Linked DNA regions of Homo sapiens: regions 2, 3 and 4 are each reported to be linked to region 1. The links are microRNA targets in miRTarBase. Many come from high-throughput screens and were not tested one by one. Region 1 holds a microRNA gene; each other region holds the end of a gene's coding sequence.

Evidence for each region. Region 1 holds the annotated microRNA hsa-miR-504-3p (GGGAGUGCAGGGCAGGGUUUC, at 1,864-1,884, shown strand). A microRNA usually pairs through its seed, bases 2 to 8, with sites in the 3' UTR of a target mRNA and lowers its output. Matches are read on the target gene's strand: a 7mer-m8 pairs with bases 2 to 8, a 7mer-A1 pairs with bases 2 to 7 and ends in A, and an 8mer does both.
Region 2: miRTarBase lists TSHZ2 as a target of hsa-miR-504-3p. The part of its 3' UTR that is shown has no 7-base or 8-base seed match.
Region 3: the mRNA of CCDC170 is a reported target of hsa-miR-504-3p. Seed matches in the 3' UTR shown: 8mer at 1,573-1,580 and 8mer at 2,392-2,399.
Region 4: miRTarBase lists LYRM4 as a target of hsa-miR-504-3p. The part of its 3' UTR that is shown has no 7-base or 8-base seed match.

Annotation. Positions count from the first base shown.
Region 1 is chrX:138,665,069-138,669,607 of GRCh38, reverse strand. MIR504 (microRNA 504) reads left to right here and starts at 1,815; the gene lies at 1,815-1,897. The region is part of intron 3 of FGF13 (fibroblast growth factor 13); the gene reads left to right.
Region 2 is chr20:53,255,587-53,260,125 of GRCh38, forward strand. It overlaps TSHZ2 (teashirt zinc finger homeobox 2), which reads left to right. Exons shown (of 3, transcript NM_173485.6): 2 at 1-985. The coding sequence ends at 977. Among named protein-coding and RNA genes, the nearest start is that of TSHZ2-AS1, 250 kb to the right of the region's middle.
Region 3 is chr6:151,617,392-151,621,930 of GRCh38, forward strand. It overlaps CCDC170 (coiled-coil domain containing 170), which reads left to right. Exons shown (of 11, transcript NM_025059.4): 11 at 556-3,802. The coding sequence ends at 756. Among named protein-coding and RNA genes, the nearest start is that of CCDC170, 130 kb to the left of the region's middle.
Region 4 is chr6:5,105,711-5,110,249 of GRCh38, forward strand. LYRM4 (LYR motif containing 4) reads right to left here. Exons shown (of 3, transcript NM_020408.6): 3 at 2,709-3,781. The coding sequence ends at 3,713. The region is part of intron 3 of LYRM4-AS1 (LYRM4 antisense RNA 1); the gene reads left to right. Among named protein-coding and RNA genes, the nearest start is that of PPP1R3G, 23 kb to the left of the region's middle.

The sequences.
Region 1 (4,539 bases):
TGACATGTAGACTGCATGCCGCTTTCATGCAAAGGTATCACATTTCAAACTTAGCATTTAAAAGAAGCCAGACAAGAAAGGAAAAGAGACAGTTATTTGTTGAAAAAAGTCTGGGTTTAGCATCAGGCACAGGGGTTATTGGTAGTTGTCTGAAGTACACTGGAGCCTTGTAACATTGTTTTGTGCCATGTATTGCCAGCCTGATACCACTGGAGTACATCCTCTGTCTAGTTTTCCAGAACTCACTACAATAACTGTAGGATTTTTCCATCCTTTATGAAATTGCATCAGTATTGTGAAGGGCCTTAAAAGCCATTCAGTTCAACAACCATCTCCCAAAAGAAAAGTTCCTCTTCTTTTTCCATTTATTTTATCTCTTCCCAAAGCCATGGGGACCTAGATACATCAATTATCCTTTGTCCTGTACCTTCACTACCTCCTGGACTACTACCTTTTTTCCACTGGCATACAGATCATTTCAAGACTTCTCATCCTAAAAAGTCCCTCCTAAGTTTCTCTTTCAGACTGTCTCTTTCCTTTGATAGGCAAGAGCTTTCTTCATTTTCTCGCCTATTTTTAAATTATTCAGCTTCACCTTTGCTTTTATTTTCTCATCTAATTCTTAATTATTCAGCCCTCCGCATTCTATCTTCTGCCCACATTGCCATCCATGAACTCCTCCTGCTAATGTCGCTAGTGACTGCCAACTAAAATCCATTTCTCCCTTCAGTCCTTACCTTATTTCTCCTTTCTACAGCACTTGACCAGGTTGGTCAACTTTTTCATTGAAACCATCTCTTCTGTGGGCTTTCACAACACTGCTTTTTCTCTGTTCTACACCATCACTATTTTTCTTTTAATTTTTACACTTCCCTCGTCTTTTCTGAAATGTTTGATGTCCTCCCCACCCCCAGTTTCCAGCCTCAGTAGTTGTCTTGTATTCTGCTTGTGTTCTCTAGATTATTAAATGTATTCTTGTGGTTTCAGTTACCATCCATATGCAGACACCTTTCATCTTGAGAGCCAGGCTTATATATACAAATGGCTGCTGCACATTAACCTATCACTAATGGCTCTTTAAACTCAAAATAACCAACAATGGAGTCATTGTCTCTATCTCTGAAATAGAACACACTACCCTCCCCCACTTCTTCCCCTTTTTACCCTGTGGCAACAACCTTTTGCTATCCTGATTTTAAGCAGGCTGCAGCATCATAATAAATGATACATAATATCTGCCTTTAAAATGCCTGTAGTGGTTAAGAGGGAGGGCTCTGACATTACATGGATTTGAAACACAATTCAAATGCTTATAAGGTTTATGATTTGGGGCAAAGGAATTATTAATCCATCTGTCCTTTAGTTTCCTCATCTATAAAATGGAGGTAATAGTAGTATAGACCTCATAGGGTTCTTAAGAGGATTAAATGGAATGATAATACATGCACAGCATTTTACAGTGTTAAGTTCATTAAGTTAACAAATGCTTCATATTATTTGCCGTTACAGTCCATATAATAACATGCTGCCTTCAGGCCAATATATATAAGCCTATAATTCTTGGAAGACTATGGAAATCCTATCATATATTAAATTGTCATTTTTTTTAAGACTAAGAAAAATTTATGTAAAGTCCAAAAGTACAGCTGTTTACAGGGGACGAACTGATCCACAAGGCCACAGTCTACCCTCATCAGTTAGTGTCCATCACTGAAGTGGAATAACTCAAAAGGAAAAGGTAACTCAACGAGCCATCCATTTCCCACATAGAATCACAACAGAAGACAGAAAATATGGAGTGGAATGTTGAATCAGCTGCTGTTGGGAGACCCTGGTCTGCACTCTATCTGTATTCTTACTGAAGGGAGTGCAGGGCAGGGTTTCCCATACAGAGGGCACAGACTACCACCGTATGGCAAATGTTGACTGGAACTCAACTTCAAAGCCATTTCACCTGGAATCTTACCCCACCACCCCAATGCTTCATGAAAATTCAACTGATCCTCTTCTATGAAGAAACTCAATCCTGATAAGTCTCTTTAGTAGTTATTGAAATGTCTTTGTAACTCTCTTATAGTCAGGTTCAGTAAGAATGTTAAGTTTCTAATTGAGCTTTTCTTTCTGAACAGTTATTTTGTGTATGTTTATTTTCTGTTTACCAATGTAATATATGTTCTTTGCAGAAAAATTGGAAAATACAAAAAGGTATCTACAAAGTCCCCCAACCAAGAGAAAACCAATATTAATGTTCTGTTATAGATCCTTGTAGTGGCTAGCTGGAATTCGTGTATATCTCTCTCTCTCTGTCTTTGTCTTTCTTTCTCTCTCTCTCTCTATATATATACATATATTCCAAATATACATTTTTATGTAATATATATGTATATTATATATGTATACATATATTCCAAATATACATATATATCTTCATGTAATATATACGTATTTTATATATATGTATAAATACATAATATACATATATAACCTAATATATGATATAGCATAATATATGTATACACATATATGTGTACATATATAAAATACATATATATTACATAAAGATATATATGTACATTTGGAATAACTATGCATACCATGTTTCAAACCTGCTGTTTACTCGTTATTATGACTATTCCTCTATATATTAAAATATTATTCTTAATCTACATTTTAGTGGTTGAATAGTAATAATCTATTTAGTTTGTTCTCTGTTTATTTGTTTTTGTTTTTGGGAACAAGGAACTGTTCACACCTAAATGTGTACAACCTTTATGTCTAGATCAGGCACTTGAATTCTTAAAAAAGTGTTAGGAAATGGAATAATGATCTTTTATTTATAAGTTGTATATGTTTCTGTATTCTGTTCATATATGATAATTGAAATAGACCTATATCTAACACTTTAAAATTTATAGTATTTTCATCTTTATTTCCTCATTTGATCCCTGCTACACCTTGTGAGATAGAGAAGGGCTTATTATTCTGTCCTTATAGATAAGGAAACTTATGTCCAGAAAGATGAAGTGGTTTTCCAAAAGACACGTAGCTAATAAATAATTGACAACATTGGAATTTGGAATTAGAAAGCAAGTCTTGTGACTCCTAACCAATACTCTTTCCAGTACACTTTGCCATGTCCCAACTTCACTTTCTTTAAGTGCTTCTTTCTAGCACCTCTTATTCAATTATTGTCATACGTACTTTTTGGATCATACCTTAGGAGAATGTAGCTTTCTCATGAATTTCCTCATTAGCTGACAACTGAATATGGCTAGATTTTAACAATAAAAACACATTTTTTTCTTTTCAGGAATGCAAATACACAGTGTATTATATGTAGAAAAAACTCTCAGATATTGGATCCTTATTGATGAGGCTTATGAGATAATATAGCAACTCAGACTTTTCTCAGGAAGAAGAAAATCCATGTCTTTTGTTGGACAGTTTAGAGAGTCTAGACTACCATCATTCAGCATTTGAACATTTTGATTTCAAAATGTAGACAATTGAAGAAATACAATGTAAATGCCAGGGAATTAAATCATAGGACAAAAACTCCCTATGAAAACATCTTAGTGATAGCATACATGTTAAAATTTTTGAAAACACTGGGAATGGTTTCACTTCTCATCTGAGTATCTGAGAAACAGATGATTATGTACCTCCCAGCCCTGTGTCAGCCCTAATTTAGTTGATGGCATTATTGCTCCCTGCTTTCTTTTTTTTCTCTTTATAGCAGATTGCTATTCTTTTTTACTTTAAAATAGCACCTTTTGCTGCCCTGTCTTATCCTTGTGCTCTTTTAAAAAGTGGTCAGGCACACACTTTTGTCACTAGTTTTACATGAGGGTAGGGGCTTTCTCTTTTCTTTTCAAAAATTAAGTGCCACTACATCTCAGTTAAACTGCCTTCATCTGACAAGCACTTACAGAATACTGAAATATAATCTACTGCAAAAAATCTACATGTTTTTCATAAATACGAATGAAATGCTTTTAATATTATCCCTGTGTTCAGAGTTAATGCTTAGGCATTAACTAAAGTACGCTAGACGCTTTTGATATATTTCCAAAGGCCCAGCCAGAAAGATATATTGCAGATACACATATTCTAAGTGTTTACAAAATCTTCCAAAATTATTTTGCCTGTGTCTGCTTAAAAGGCACAGGAAACAGCTCCCCTACTATCTCCTCTATCCAGTCAGGAACACTTGCAGTAAGGACACTGGTTGTTCAGTGCACAAGGATTAAAGTAACTTAATTACACAGTCAAATCAATAATAAATTGAGATCATTAGAGCCTTGGCTCGAGCTGAACCCCAGGTAGCCGTGGAATCCCTATGATACTTGAAGAAGAATTGACACAGATTCTAAGGCCTCACAGGTTCAAGGAGAAGCAGACAGCCTCACTTTGTTCCTTCAAATTAGTTTTGAGTGGAGGAATCTTAGGTTTAAGTGAGACCTGGATCTTGTTTTGGGGTGATCTCTGGAAACTGGGATATAATCTACTCTCCAGGGTAGAAGACTATGAAGGGACTAA
Region 2 (4,539 bases), not on the chromosome of region 1:
CGGAGCCCTTGCGCTCACCTTCCTGCTCCAGCCCAAGTTCAAGCACAATTTCCATGTTCCACAAGTCGAATCTCAATGTCATGGACAAGCCGGTCTTGAGTCCTGCCTCCACAAGGTCAGCCAGCGTGTCCAGGCGCTACCTGTTTGAGAACAGCGATCAGCCCATTGACCTGACCAAGTCCAAAAGCAAGAAAGCCGAGTCCTCGCAAGCACAATCTTGTATGTCCCCACCTCAGAAGCACGCTCTGTCTGACATCGCCGACATGGTCAAAGTCCTCCCCAAAGCCACCACCCCAAAGCCAGCCTCCTCCTCCAGGGTCCCCCCCATGAAGCTGGAAATGGATGTCAGGCGCTTTGAGGATGTCTCCAGTGAAGTCTCAACTTTGCATAAAAGAAAAGGCCGGCAGTCCAACTGGAATCCTCAGCATCTTCTGATTCTACAAGCCCAGTTTGCCTCGAGCCTCTTCCAGACATCAGAGGGCAAATACCTGCTGTCTGATCTGGGCCCACAAGAGCGTATGCAAATCTCTAAGTTTACGGGACTCTCAATGACCACTATCAGTCACTGGCTGGCCAACGTCAAGTACCAGCTTAGGAAAACGGGCGGGACAAAATTTCTGAAAAACATGGACAAAGGCCACCCCATCTTTTATTGCAGTGACTGTGCCTCCCAGTTCAGAACCCCTTCTACCTACATCAGTCACTTAGAATCTCACCTGGGTTTCCAAATGAAGGACATGACCCGCTTGTCAGTGGACCAGCAAAGCAAGGTGGAGCAAGAGATCTCCCGGGTATCGTCGGCTCAGAGGTCTCCAGAAACAATAGCTGCCGAAGAGGACACAGACTCTAAATTCAAGTGTAAGTTGTGCTGTCGGACATTTGTGAGCAAACATGCGGTAAAACTCCACCTAAGCAAAACGCACAGCAAGTCACCCGAACACCATTCACAGTTTGTAACAGACGTGGATGAAGAATAGCTCTGCAGGTATGGGTTTGCTCTGAGGCATTGCGATTAGCCTGGTGAGGAGCTTTCTTACAGGGAGATGGGTCTGCTTAGAGGCAGCTAGCATCTCCCAATGCCAAGCAGGATAGTAGCTTGCTGGAGTAGGATTTATTTTAATGAAAGACCAGAACATGAAAACTAAGTCCTAATCATTCTCTTAAGTCCTCTAGTTTAGAGCTGGGAACTAGAATAAAACGGGTTTAGAGAGATAAAGTTCACAGATTACTACTGCTTTTTTTAGGCCTTCATCATCCATAATCCTGAATTACCCAAGGCAAGCTCCAGTGTCCAGCCAAGGCTATCTTTCATTTTAATTATTAGATACTAACTTCTGTCACCATTCCATTTCACCACCCCACCTTTCCATAGCAATGCCAATGACTTATAAAGTGACAAAAAGTTGAGCAATGGAAGAAAGATTGGAGAGTGCTAGAAGTAGTTACTATATAGAGATTCCTTAATCAGCTCATGAATAGCTTAAAGTTGTCTTTATGATTGTTACTTGTAATGAATGCTTTTTTGCAGCTTACTTTTAGTAATTGCCACCTTCCACCTCTTCCCTTTGGTTATTTTCTACATTAAGTGTCCTATGAATGAGCATGTGCCCTTAACAGGTTGGTAGAAAAATATTCTTCTTTGCAGAACATTGAGATGAAAAGAAGCTTATTTTCTTCTTTCATCTTTTGGTTTTCTTGTGGATAGACCAGTATTAGAGCCCACCTTTAACAAAGATAGAGGCAATGTGTGCCCTTGAGGTTTCATTTCACATAAAGAAACAAATGGCTTTCTGTACACTTATGTTAATGTGCATGGAGTCCCATAGCTTGAAGATAATGTGCATCATGTGTCATAGAAGTTCCATGCCTTATATAGTCAACCATGCCCAGACCATTTGTGTCATTTTTAGGAAACAGGGCAGAGACCAAGGTCAAATGCTTTGGCAGATTAGTTTCACCAGCCATTTTCAAATGTTGAGGATAAGCAAGGCTGGGTCTTAACCAATCTCTTTCATTTGCCCATTTGTGTTTTCTCTACTTCTTTTTCTCTCCCTTCCAGCATGATGCCCGCATACACTAAGGGCCCTCCTATGTGTTCAGGTGGTCCTCCACCTTCGGCCATTCCCCAAGATGGGAACCCAACCTGAACTAAACCTTCTGTGCTGACCAATCCAGTTGACGTCATGTTAAGTTACGGATTTGCTCCTAGTTAATTAGCTCTTAATTCACGATCGAATATGAAAAACTAATAACATATAATCGCTCACCACACCCTATTGTCAGAGCATTGGTTTACAAATAGAAGACTTTCAGAACAAGCTAGAAAGGTAGGACACTAGGAGAGTTCCAGGTAGAGAGCGGTATTTACATGGCATGGCTTTGGGCTTGCCTCACATCAGACAGAGGGGTTTACTGGGTGTGAAGATGGCCAAGATGAAATAAAAAGTTAAAATATCTGACCTGGGACTTTCCCCTGAGTGAGGCGATCTACGCTTCTGATGGAGAGGAGTCCTCCTATAACTCTAATTGCTATCTAGACCCAAATGAAGACTATCTTTTTGGTTTGCATGTTTTTATCATGATGATTGAATGTGTTATTGGCAGATTCTTCTCATTCTTTCCAAGCATGATTTGTTCAGCTCACGGAATTGAAAGAAAAGCCAAAATGCATCCATTGAATTCACACCTGAGCTTGGGGTTCAACAGCGTCCTATTTATTTGCTGCATAACATTTTAAATCTTAAATAACTTGCCATTATGTTTTCCTGGTTCTTAAAAAAAAAGAGGGGGGGCATACAGAGAATACTTAGAGAGAAGAAAGATATTTCAAATCCAATAGTGGTGGGTTGAAACCATGGTGAAGAGGACAAATAGGTAATATTTATTTGTACTATAACAAAGACCACTTTTCCACCTGTTAGGTTTGTAATCTTTTTTAGAAAATTAATATAATTGCCAAAACACTCTGATATGTAGATAGGGAGAGGTAAGGAAAAGAAAGCTTGATCCATCGTCAGTCAGAATCTGGAGTGTATGATACCTGTTCTAGGGATTCAAAGGTGAACCAATAATTTGGAAAAACATATACAAAAGGTACTTCCAAATCCATTAAATACATAGATAAGATAGCCATTTTGGCACTTCTCTGCATTTGTACAGGATGAGTATATCTAATTTGGACCTCGAAAGCACCGTATTGGTGTTTTCATTATACAAAACCAAAGCTCCATCCTTACAAGCACCATTAGGCTGTGGTTCTGAGAGGATTGCAGAAAAACAGGTTTGAGTGTTTGGGACTCACTCAAAGCCATGGGCGTGTATGTATGTTTTGTAAACAGAAAAGATGGTGCAGGTACTGGCTGTGTTTGTGTTCATCGTAAAAATACTCCTATCTGCCTGAATGTTTCCCCCATCTGTACAAAGGTCGATTCTTGGTGCTTTGGTCACCTTAGAAAAAAATGCCTCCACCCCCGGGGTCCTCTTTTAGAACAATATTTATGCAATACCTTGCCCATTGCTTAGAATGATGCATGTAAGGTTTCTAAATGGTCATGAAATGACATCACTGTTGTCTGGAACTCTAATCTTAGTTGTAATGCATAGTAGCACAAATTGTGCAAAGTGACATGATATTTTAGAAAGTATGATCAAGATTTCTTGGAAACTATGAGAGCTTTAACCTATCAATGTTTTTTGAAAGACACAACTTTTGATCTGAATTTTCTTTCCTTTACCAGATATATCTTAAATCCTGCAAAATGCTCTGCCAAATATTAAATGCAACTTTTCGTTAAAAATTTCATTAGAAAATATTAAGTGTGCATCTCTATTTTAGGTCATAAGTAATCTAAAACAATTTCAATATGTATTTGTATATAGCTTTAAAAGCCACATGCTCTTGACTAATAGAAATTAAACAGAGAGCAAATCAATGAGTCTGAAATGCATAAAGGCTTGAAATTATAGTCATCACTGTGTAATATAGTGTACAAGCTTAACAGCACACCTAGCCTTGAAATTGTTGGCAGGAAAGTATTCTAGTCCAATGAGCTGCCACTTCTGTTGTGGGCGGCTTGATAAAAACACATATTCAGGGTGAAAAGCGCGTAAGGTTGCCAGACAAAATACAGAACGGATGTCCAGTTAAATGTGTATTTCAGATAAATGACAAATAGGTTTTGAGTATAAGCCTGGCCCAAATATTGCATGGGCCATACTTATATTTTTAAAATATTCATTGTTTATCAGAATTCAAATTTAACTGGGCATCCTGTATTTTTATTAGCTAAATCTGGCAACCCTAACAGCATAGATTATATGGCAGTTGGGAAGAACAAAATAGCCTGGACAAATTAATATCTATTAATGGCATCAACCATTCCTTCCTCCATTAAATAAATATTCCTTCCTTTCATCCTCTTTTCCCTCCTTTGTTCCTTCATTCCTTCCTCTTTCCCTTCTTTCCTTCCTTCCTTTTTTCTTCTTTCCTTCCTTCTTTTCTTCCCTCCCTGCATTCCTTTCATCCTTCAACAAATACTG
Region 3 (4,539 bases), not on the chromosome of region 1:
TTTCTTGCTGTTTGTTCTTTTTTTTTTTTTTTTTTTTTTTTTTTTTTTTTTTTTTTTTTTTTAGTGTAAGAGGTTATCAGCCAGCTAAAATCCCAAAGCATGTTTACCATCCATGGGCACAACCCCACCAACATTTGTTTAGTTCTTCCTAGTATGCAGAGCACACACACAGTCACCATTTCATGTGATCTGAATTTCAGGGCAGCCCTTCGACGTAGGTGTATGGTTAATCCCAACCTGGAGATGAGAAAATGAAGGCTTAGTGAGGTCTGGGTCTCATTCATGGTTACTTAACTTGGATTCTTGACTTAGTAGCCAATACCACATCAGTTGGCTCATCAGAAAAGTGATTGTGAAATCTCTGAAGGTTGGCAGTTGATGTGACTTATCTGGAATCTGGTATTTTATAAGTGAGAGAACTAGGAAGAGAGTAGATAATTTCCCTACCTCATGCAAACCTGGGTTTTCTACAGGTTTTTTGTTTGTTGCATTTGGCTCAGCAGTAGTTGATACATTTTGTTCTCCCAGTTAATGAGTTTCTGTTTGATATTGCAGCTGGCAGACTTCAGGGAGGTGGTGTCGCAGATGCTAGGCTTGAACGTGACCAGCCTTGCTCTTCCTGATTATGAAATCATCAAGTGTCTTGAAAGATTGGTCCATTCACATCAGCATCACTTTGTTACCTGTGCCTGCCTCAAAGATGTGACTACTGGGCAAGAGAGGCACCCACAAGGCCATTTACAGCTTCTTCATTGAACACTGTATCTCTTGAGAGAGGTGGCCATAAGACATGGCACACAATTCCCAATTTCACAAATTCCTCATGTCTTTGAGATTTGATCAGTTTGTGAATATTTTATGCTTTGATGATATAGTGAGAATGCATCACTTGCAAAAACGATCTCAAAAGTGTCAGCCTTAGATAAACGTTCAGCATTAAAAACGCCTATTATTTCATTTACTAGCATTTTAGGATCCAGAAGAATTCCACCAGATTGCATGAGTTAGATTGGGAAATGGGAGTGGGAGATAATATTGGGAGGTATCTATTTTAAGTCAGGGGCTTTACTAGCCGATTTAGTTCTCACAATAACCATGTGGAGAAGCTGTGACATTTTTAATTTACAACCTTTCTGGGGCTCAGACATAAAGTTACCTATCCAAGGTTGCAGTTGGGTAGTGGTGGGACCAGGATGGACAACTCATTGGCCCTGCCTCAAAAGCCATACCTCTTCTCCTGCTATGCAGAATCTGTTTCTCCTGAATCTCTGTGATGCTGGTGGGAATTGTTTGCATAGAGGAAGGACAATAACCCTGCCATCGTGAGTTAATGTCCGGGCTGGTCACAGTGGTTCATGCCTGTAATCCCAGCACTTTGGGAGTCCAAGGCAGGCATATCATTTGAGGTCAGGAGTTTAAGACCAGCCTGGCTAACATAGTGAGACCCTGTTTCTACTAAAAATACAAAAATAAGCCAGGTGTGGTGGTGCATGACTGTAATCCCAACTACTCAGCAGGAGAAGCACTTGAACCCAGGAGACGGAGGCGGCAGTGAGCCAAGATTGTGCCACTGCACTCCAGCCTGGGCGACAGAGTGAAACTACATCTCAGAAAAAAAAAAAAAAAAAAAAAAAAAAAGTTAATGTCCAAAAATGACAGATTTACAAGTGTAAGCTATATGATTTCTTCAAAAAGCAAAAGCAATATACCTAATTCATTTGGATCAAACTTACATAGGTCTCAGGTCCTGTAAGAAACTTGCCTGTTCTAACTGTTGCTACCAGATTATATCTGGTGGTAATTGTTAATGTTTCAGCAGGGCTGGTCTCAGTCCTTTAAAATGGAAAGCTTTATTTGGAGCCCAACCCTATAAGATGAAGAAATCCTATATAGTCTTATTCACCAATATATCCAATACACCCACAGCAATGGTACCTTTTTAAGATCAGGATTTTATTATGAATTCCTGTCACTTTCTGTTTTCCATTTAAATTTCTATTTTACAAATTTTTCAGGGAATCATATTCTTAACTTCACTGAGAAAAATGTGTTACTCTTTTGGACAATTTATCTTATTTCTATCATATAAGATGTATTTTTTTATTGTCCTTAAAAGAAGCTCTAGCATGAAATTAAAGGAAAGGGAAAGAAATAGATCTGGTGCACCCGAACATTAGGAGAAAATGAAAAATATACAACCAACCGTTCGTGAGTCATCAAAAAGTCAAAGTCAGCCTGGCCAACATGGCAAAACTCCGTCTCTGCAAAAAATACAAAAATGAGCCCGGTATGTTGGCATATGCCTGTAATCCCAGCTACTCGAGAGGCTGAGACACGAAAATTGCTTGAACCTGGGAGGCGGAGGTTGCAATGAGCCGAGATCGCGCTACTGCACTCCAGCCTGGGCAACAGAGAGAGACCTTGTCTCAAAAAACAACAACAACAAAAAGTCAAAGTCATAATAAGCAAATTATTGGCTTCTTTCTTCTAGACTAAAAGAAATTAAAGAGATGAAACAATCAATTGCAAGGGTCAAAACTAGATTGGATCTTGGTTTGAATGAAAAAAAGCATAAAATATTCTTGCAATAATTGTAAAAATTTGAATGTGGACTAAGTCCTAGATTATATTAAAATATTTTTAATTTTTTAAGCTTGACAAATGCACTGATTGTTATACTTTAAATAACTAAAAATCTGAGAATCCACAGTGCTACAGACAATAAGTGATAAAATGGGAAAAAATAGTGAAGATCTTCTTTTAGGAAAACTACCAATAAATGTAGAATGGATGATTCCAAAAAAAAAAAAAAAAAGAAGAAAGAGAGAAAGAAAGAAACAGAAAAACCTAAAAGAAAGCGAATGAATTTGACACCTGTTGGTTGGATGACAGACCACACAGAGGGAGAGTGACCAGGCTTTGCTTGTGGAGCGGGCATCCCTGCCTAGCTATCTCCTTCATGTGCAAGGACAGTATAAGTAGTATTTTGCATGTGAGTAAACACACCTGCGCAGCCCTGGCTGAGGTCACTAGGCTGGCCAGAGGCAGGACAGGCAGTCTTGAATTTCCTCTAGGGGAGGCCTGCAGTTTTCCCCACCAACCCCTTTTCACATGCTCCAAAGATGTAGTAGTGTCTGCTGTTTTGGATCGAAAATCACCTTGAGTGGAGGAAGTGACTTCACTGGGTCTCTGGAGGCTCTCGGAGCTTGAGTGGCTCTGCCCCACCCTGAATCATGCACCCATAAATGCAGTTATGGGTGGATGTGGGTGTATGAGAGTGGAGATTGTTTTTGTACATTCTCTTTGTTTTCATTTTCCAAATATAATCTTTAATAAACTTGATTTAGTTTCTTGGGAAATTTATTTTCTACGCTATTCAAAGATATTTTAAATAATATTTTAAAAACATGAAATTTTTTTTTCATTTTTGATTTGATATCATTAATTTTATATCAGGATTCATGTAAGAGACTAAAAATGATCCATAGTGGTTAGTACTGTAATTTCTGTTTATTACATGAAATTACATTCCATTTATCCAAATATATGTTTATATAATATTTCCACTGTGTGACTCTAGTGATCTTTAACATACACAGAATGATCTACAGTGATCTTTAACATACTCAGAAATATGAAAAATGTTTGAATATGATCTTTAGGGACTTCTAATGAAAAGGGTATATGAAATGGGAACAATAAATTCTGTACATGTATACAGTCCATATACACATTAAGTGTTTGTCATTTGGACAAATTGAAAACTTTTAATAAAGCCATTTTCTTCTTTGTTAAAATGCCAGTTGGTTGTTGGATTTCCCTTTATGGCAATCATTCCAGAGTTGGCAGGCCAGCTTTGAATTTTTAGGTTAGATTTTGTTCTTCTATAATATCCATGTATATTTTATGCTGTCCAATAAAATGCACTAGGTTGATATGATTTTTACATAAGGCTTTAAAATATTTAATACTAACTCTTCTGTCAAATACACTTGAGTGATAGTGATTTTGCACTGAGGTTATTATTCTGGTCACTGTCTGAGACATCTAAATCGATGCATAAAAACATCTCATTTAGGGAAAACAATTTAAGCTTGACCTATCTAAAATTTCCAGTTTTACCTTACAGTCTGTTTTACAGGTTAACAGCAAGTGATTCAAGGTCCAGGGGTGGCAGGCTGAAGCTGTTAAAGAAATCTACATTATTGATATTGTCATAATACTTACGACTCAGAAATGGAGTCTCATTTTAACTGGGGAAGCATTTCATGGTTATGTAGCCTTTGGCTTGGAAAGTCTCACCCAGTTGATGCAGTAGTGATTTTATCCACATTATTGGACACTTCACTTAGCTTCTCATTAGCAAGTGGGGTCTGTATGCTTCTCTTTCCGCTATGTGCTTCCATACCGTATTCCTCTGCCTTTGTATAAACACATGGTTCATTTGAGGCTCCTGCTAGCTGATAGATGGATAACTTTCTTCTAGACCTCATTGGGGTTACCTACTAAAAGCCTATCTATTCTCCCTGCTTTAGACTT
Region 4 (4,539 bases), not on the chromosome of region 1:
GGCTGAGGCAGGAGAATTGCTTGAACCCGGGAGGCAGAGGTTGTAGTGAGCTGAGATTATGCCACTGCACTCCAGCCTGGGCAACAGAGCGAGACTCTGTCTCAAAAAAACAAAACAAAACAAAACAAAAACCTCATCTTGCCTAAAAACTCCCGAGTTGCTCACCATCCTTAGGCTGAGGCTCCAAGGCCGTCCACGATGTGGAAAGAGCCCTCTTCCTTGGCTGCCACCATCCCAGACTCCCTTTAGTTCTTTGCATGGAACTACCCTCTCCCCCAATTAAGGGCTTTGCATGTGCTGTTCCTCCTGCCTAGAGAGCTCCTCTCCCCACCTTCACACAGCCAATCCTCATCATTAATTTGCACGTGTAAATATCCCCTGGGGAGCCCTTCCCTGGCCCGTCCCATCGGCTCTGGCAGCACTCATATTTCCCTCTTTGTAACATTCATAAGACTTGTCATTTTCTTCTCAGATTTCCCTGCTAGACACAGGCTTTATGAAGGTACGTCTGTCTTGTTCACTGGTTGCTCCCTGGCACCTGGCACCTGGCACTAGGTGGCCTTAGTCAATACTGAGTGAATAAATGAATGAGTGAAAGGGGTTTAGGGGAAAGGCCCTGACTCTGTACGTGATCTGCAGATGTTCAGGCTCTTTGTTTTAACACCTGAAGATTTGAGGGTTGGACTAGGTGAGCTCTGATGTTTGTCATCTTTGTAGGCTTCACCCTCTGCCTGTCCCTTTTGCTCCTGGATGATGGTGGGTTGTATGGTGGGGCTTGAGATTAACGGGAGAGGCTGTGGATGAAGGGAGTTAAAGGTCACTGCTACTTAGTTAGCAGCAGGACGGAGTATACCTAAAGCAATCTAGCCAATTCTTTCAGTTCCAAAATCCAGATTCCAACAGCCATCAGAACAACACAGCCCTGTACTTGGCCGTGCAAGATCTCCCAGCTATTATGTCATGACAGCCAGCCCAGCCCAGAGCTGTCTCTGAAAGTCTAGGATATAGCCTTGCTCGGCCAATGAGTTCTGCCTGGGAAGTTAACTAATGATAGTAGTTCTCATTTGCTCAATATTAGTGCTGCAAAGTGATCTCCAGACCCCAGCCCGGATCCTATCTTCAAAGCAGGCACAAGTTCTAGAGAGTTCTGTGAGGCTGGCCATGATGGATGTTGGAGTTGCCCACATTCCCCTCAGTTGGTGCATAGTCAAGGAGGTGGAATACTTCCCTAGAGAAACACCAGGGGTCACCCCCATGGGAATGCCACTTTATTCGAAGCTCTAGCATCAATATTGGGTCATCTCAGTTGGGGAGTACCCAGTGCCAGGCTCTGCCTGCCAGATATACACCTGAAAGGTGGAGGACCAAGGCCTGTTTGTGGCGTTTCCTGCCACAGAATTCGGATTTGTATCTTTCTGCAGATTCCAAAGGCATAGTTAATTTTACAAAATTAAGTCTGCATTAGCAAGGCTTTGGGCATGTTCAAACCCATTCATGCAGTTTAATGAACACAAAAGCAACCTGCTGTTACAGCCTGCAGCCCACGTTAAGTTTGGGTGGACTGCCTCATTGCGTAAAACCTGGGGGAGTGGGAGAAGTCTCCTCTGGAGCTGTTATCTTGCCGGCAATTTGATGCCTTCAGCACGGAGGTTCAAATCTGGACTTCGGTTCCAAGTAGCAGTTGCTTAAATTAAGTATAAATCAGCAGTGCCGTGCGTTAGTAGCGTGGTTGGATGCATTCACTGCTGAGTGACCACGAACTCCACTGCACTGATGCAAGGTGGAAAACCTGAGCCAGAGCCACACACAGGGCTGGGCTGGGCGGCTCTGCCCCGTGACAGTCAGCTGAAGGGAGTGATTATACTTGCCACATCACCTCCGTTCACTGTCCACCGAACAGCTCTCCCCCAATTAGGGCTTTGCATATGCTCTAACACTGCAGCTCCCAGGCAGGAACTGGTTAGAGGGTAAGAGATCTGGGACTTGCTAAGAGCTTCATTATTTTCACAGATGCTCAGGACTTTATCCTGAAATTGGCAGGGGGTGGTGGTTCATGCCTGTAATACCAGCACTTTGGGGGGCCGAGGAGTTCAAGACCAGCCTGGCCAACATAGTGAAACCCCGTCTCTATTAAAAATACAAAAAATTAGCTGGGCGTGGTGGCAGGCCCCTGTAATCCCAGCTACTCGGGAGGCTGAGGCAGGAGAATGGCTTGAACCCAGGAGGTGGAGGTTGCAGTGAGCCAAGATCGCACCGCTGCACTCCAGCCTGGGTGACAGAGCGAGACTCCATCTCAAAAAAAAAGACTTTATCCTGAAATCAAAAGTTGTACTGCCAAATAGAATGGCTACACGTTACATCTATTTGAACGCATCATTGCAGCAAATCTATGCTCTCTAAAAGCGACTGGAAGACATGAGTTCTCATATGAGGGTGAGAAGAACACGGGCTCAGACAGTGCGTACTCACTCCCATGACCGTCGGAGTTAAAATGAGGGGGTGACAGTGCTGCAGCTATTCCAGGACCGGTGCTATTTATAGGAGCCTGTTCCAAACCTTAACCCACAGATACCAAATCCACTGAGCACTGTATGCAAAGGGAAACAAGAAACCGCTCTGCCAGGTCTGGTCCCTCGTAAACTCCCCAGATGACAAGCAAGTTATTTAATATGTTCTTTCTATGTTTGGAATGAATCTGTTTCCAAGAATAAAAGCATACAAACAATATCTTTATTACCTGTAATATACTTAAAGAGCAGGGGTCCCCAGTTGGTTAAACATTGAAAACAGTGGGAGAGCTTCAGAATAGAGAAAAATGACTGTGCCTCACCCCTCACTTACTGAGTCAGAATCTGCAGAGAGGGAAGTGCTGAGAGATGTCTTTTTAAAAAGCTCTCCAACTCTCCAGGTGCTTCTGTCCACCAGCCAGATTTGGGCACCGGTGCTGCCCAGCATGCCCCAGGCTTCAGGGTATGGGAGTCGCCCTGGGCTTGGGTCAGGCTGGGGCTCTCTCATTCACCAGGTGTGGGGAGGGGCTTGAGCCTGCATTTCCAGCAAATTCCCAGGTGGGGCTGAGGTTGCTGATCTGCAGTGCTCCATCTCTGGGTGTGTACCTACACACCCGTCACCTTTGTTGTACTGGGCTCAGGTATAAGTTGCAGGGTGCACCGTGTATCCCCGTAGCCCTGCCCTACTCCATGCTGCCCCCAGTCTCAAGTGGTGCTTGAACTTGCCTTCACCAAGGCAGTTCTCGTCTCAGAGTTGAACCCTCCCTGAGGGCCCCCAACAGCCCTCTCCAGGCCTTGTATCAGTAGGAAATGAAAATGCATTAATTGGGAGGGGTTTATCTGGGGTCAAAGGCTCAGGGAGATCATTCTTTTTATTGCCAAGGACCAAGAAACAAAGTGTAGAAATGCTATACACAATGGTCATGAGCTACAAGGTAGGAATGGGGTGCAGGGGAGACGTGGTAACACACAGCACTATTCTGAACGAACTCCAGCTCTCCATTCTAACACTTGAACCAAGGAAAGACAGCAGTCCTTTTTCACTAAGCCTGCAACAGAATGCAAATGTGACTTGGTTTATCAGCTCCCACAGGACAGGCAGCGCAAAAGGCTATTGTAAGCTGGTTTTGGGAGCCCCCATCTCAAACAGAGAGTGGATGCTGAAGGTGGTCCCTGGCCGCCACTGGTGGCTGGTCCCCGGCTTGCTAGGTCCTGGGCATGTCTCGATTCTCAATGATCAGCTTGTCAGTTGAATACAGTTGGCCAATGTGGACCTGAAGGCAAAGAAAGGACACAGGTCAGGAACCGTGGCCCTCTAGCCCCTGGGAAAGGCCAGAAGGAACATTTCCTAACATTTCTAATACAAACGTCGGCCATCCCAGGGCTGCTCCCTTCCGGCAACTGCACTGCGGGGCAAAGCCGGCCACTAGAGCACCATCCAACCCCCGTTTCCCTCACTGTGAGAAGTTACAGAGATCCACACACCCATTCCTCCCCTCTGAAACAGCACAGGAGGCTGCAGCCTGGGACTCGGGGCTGTGCTGAGCTGGGTGACGCCTGCCTGCTGGTGGCAGAGCTGTCAGATGTGTGCCCAGTACCTCCTCTCCTAAGAGGGCTTCCTTCCCTTAGAACTGATTCTCGCATAGGGAAGGGGTTTTAGAACAGTGCAGAAATGGGCGCCGTCTATGCTGGGGTAGGAAAAGCGCTGCATTCAGGGCAATGCAGACACCTGTCCGTGGCCCATCCCGGGTGGGGTCGAGGGCAGTTGTCTGAGTGCCTGCACCTCCTGCCTTCTATCTTTCCTGCCCCCTTCTTTTTAAAGTGTCCTTTTTATTAAGTGTCTTAATGCCCAATGTTTCCACTGTCCCAGGTGGATGCTGGAGCCATCCTCTGGGGCTAGAGCAGGTCTTTCCTCTGCAACAAAGGGTCTTGCCACAGTTTTTCTGTAAAGCATTTCCTGAGTGATACATTTTTAAGAACAAGTGGAATGGGTGAAGGAAGGGCTGATCATTAGCAACTCTATCTGGATTTC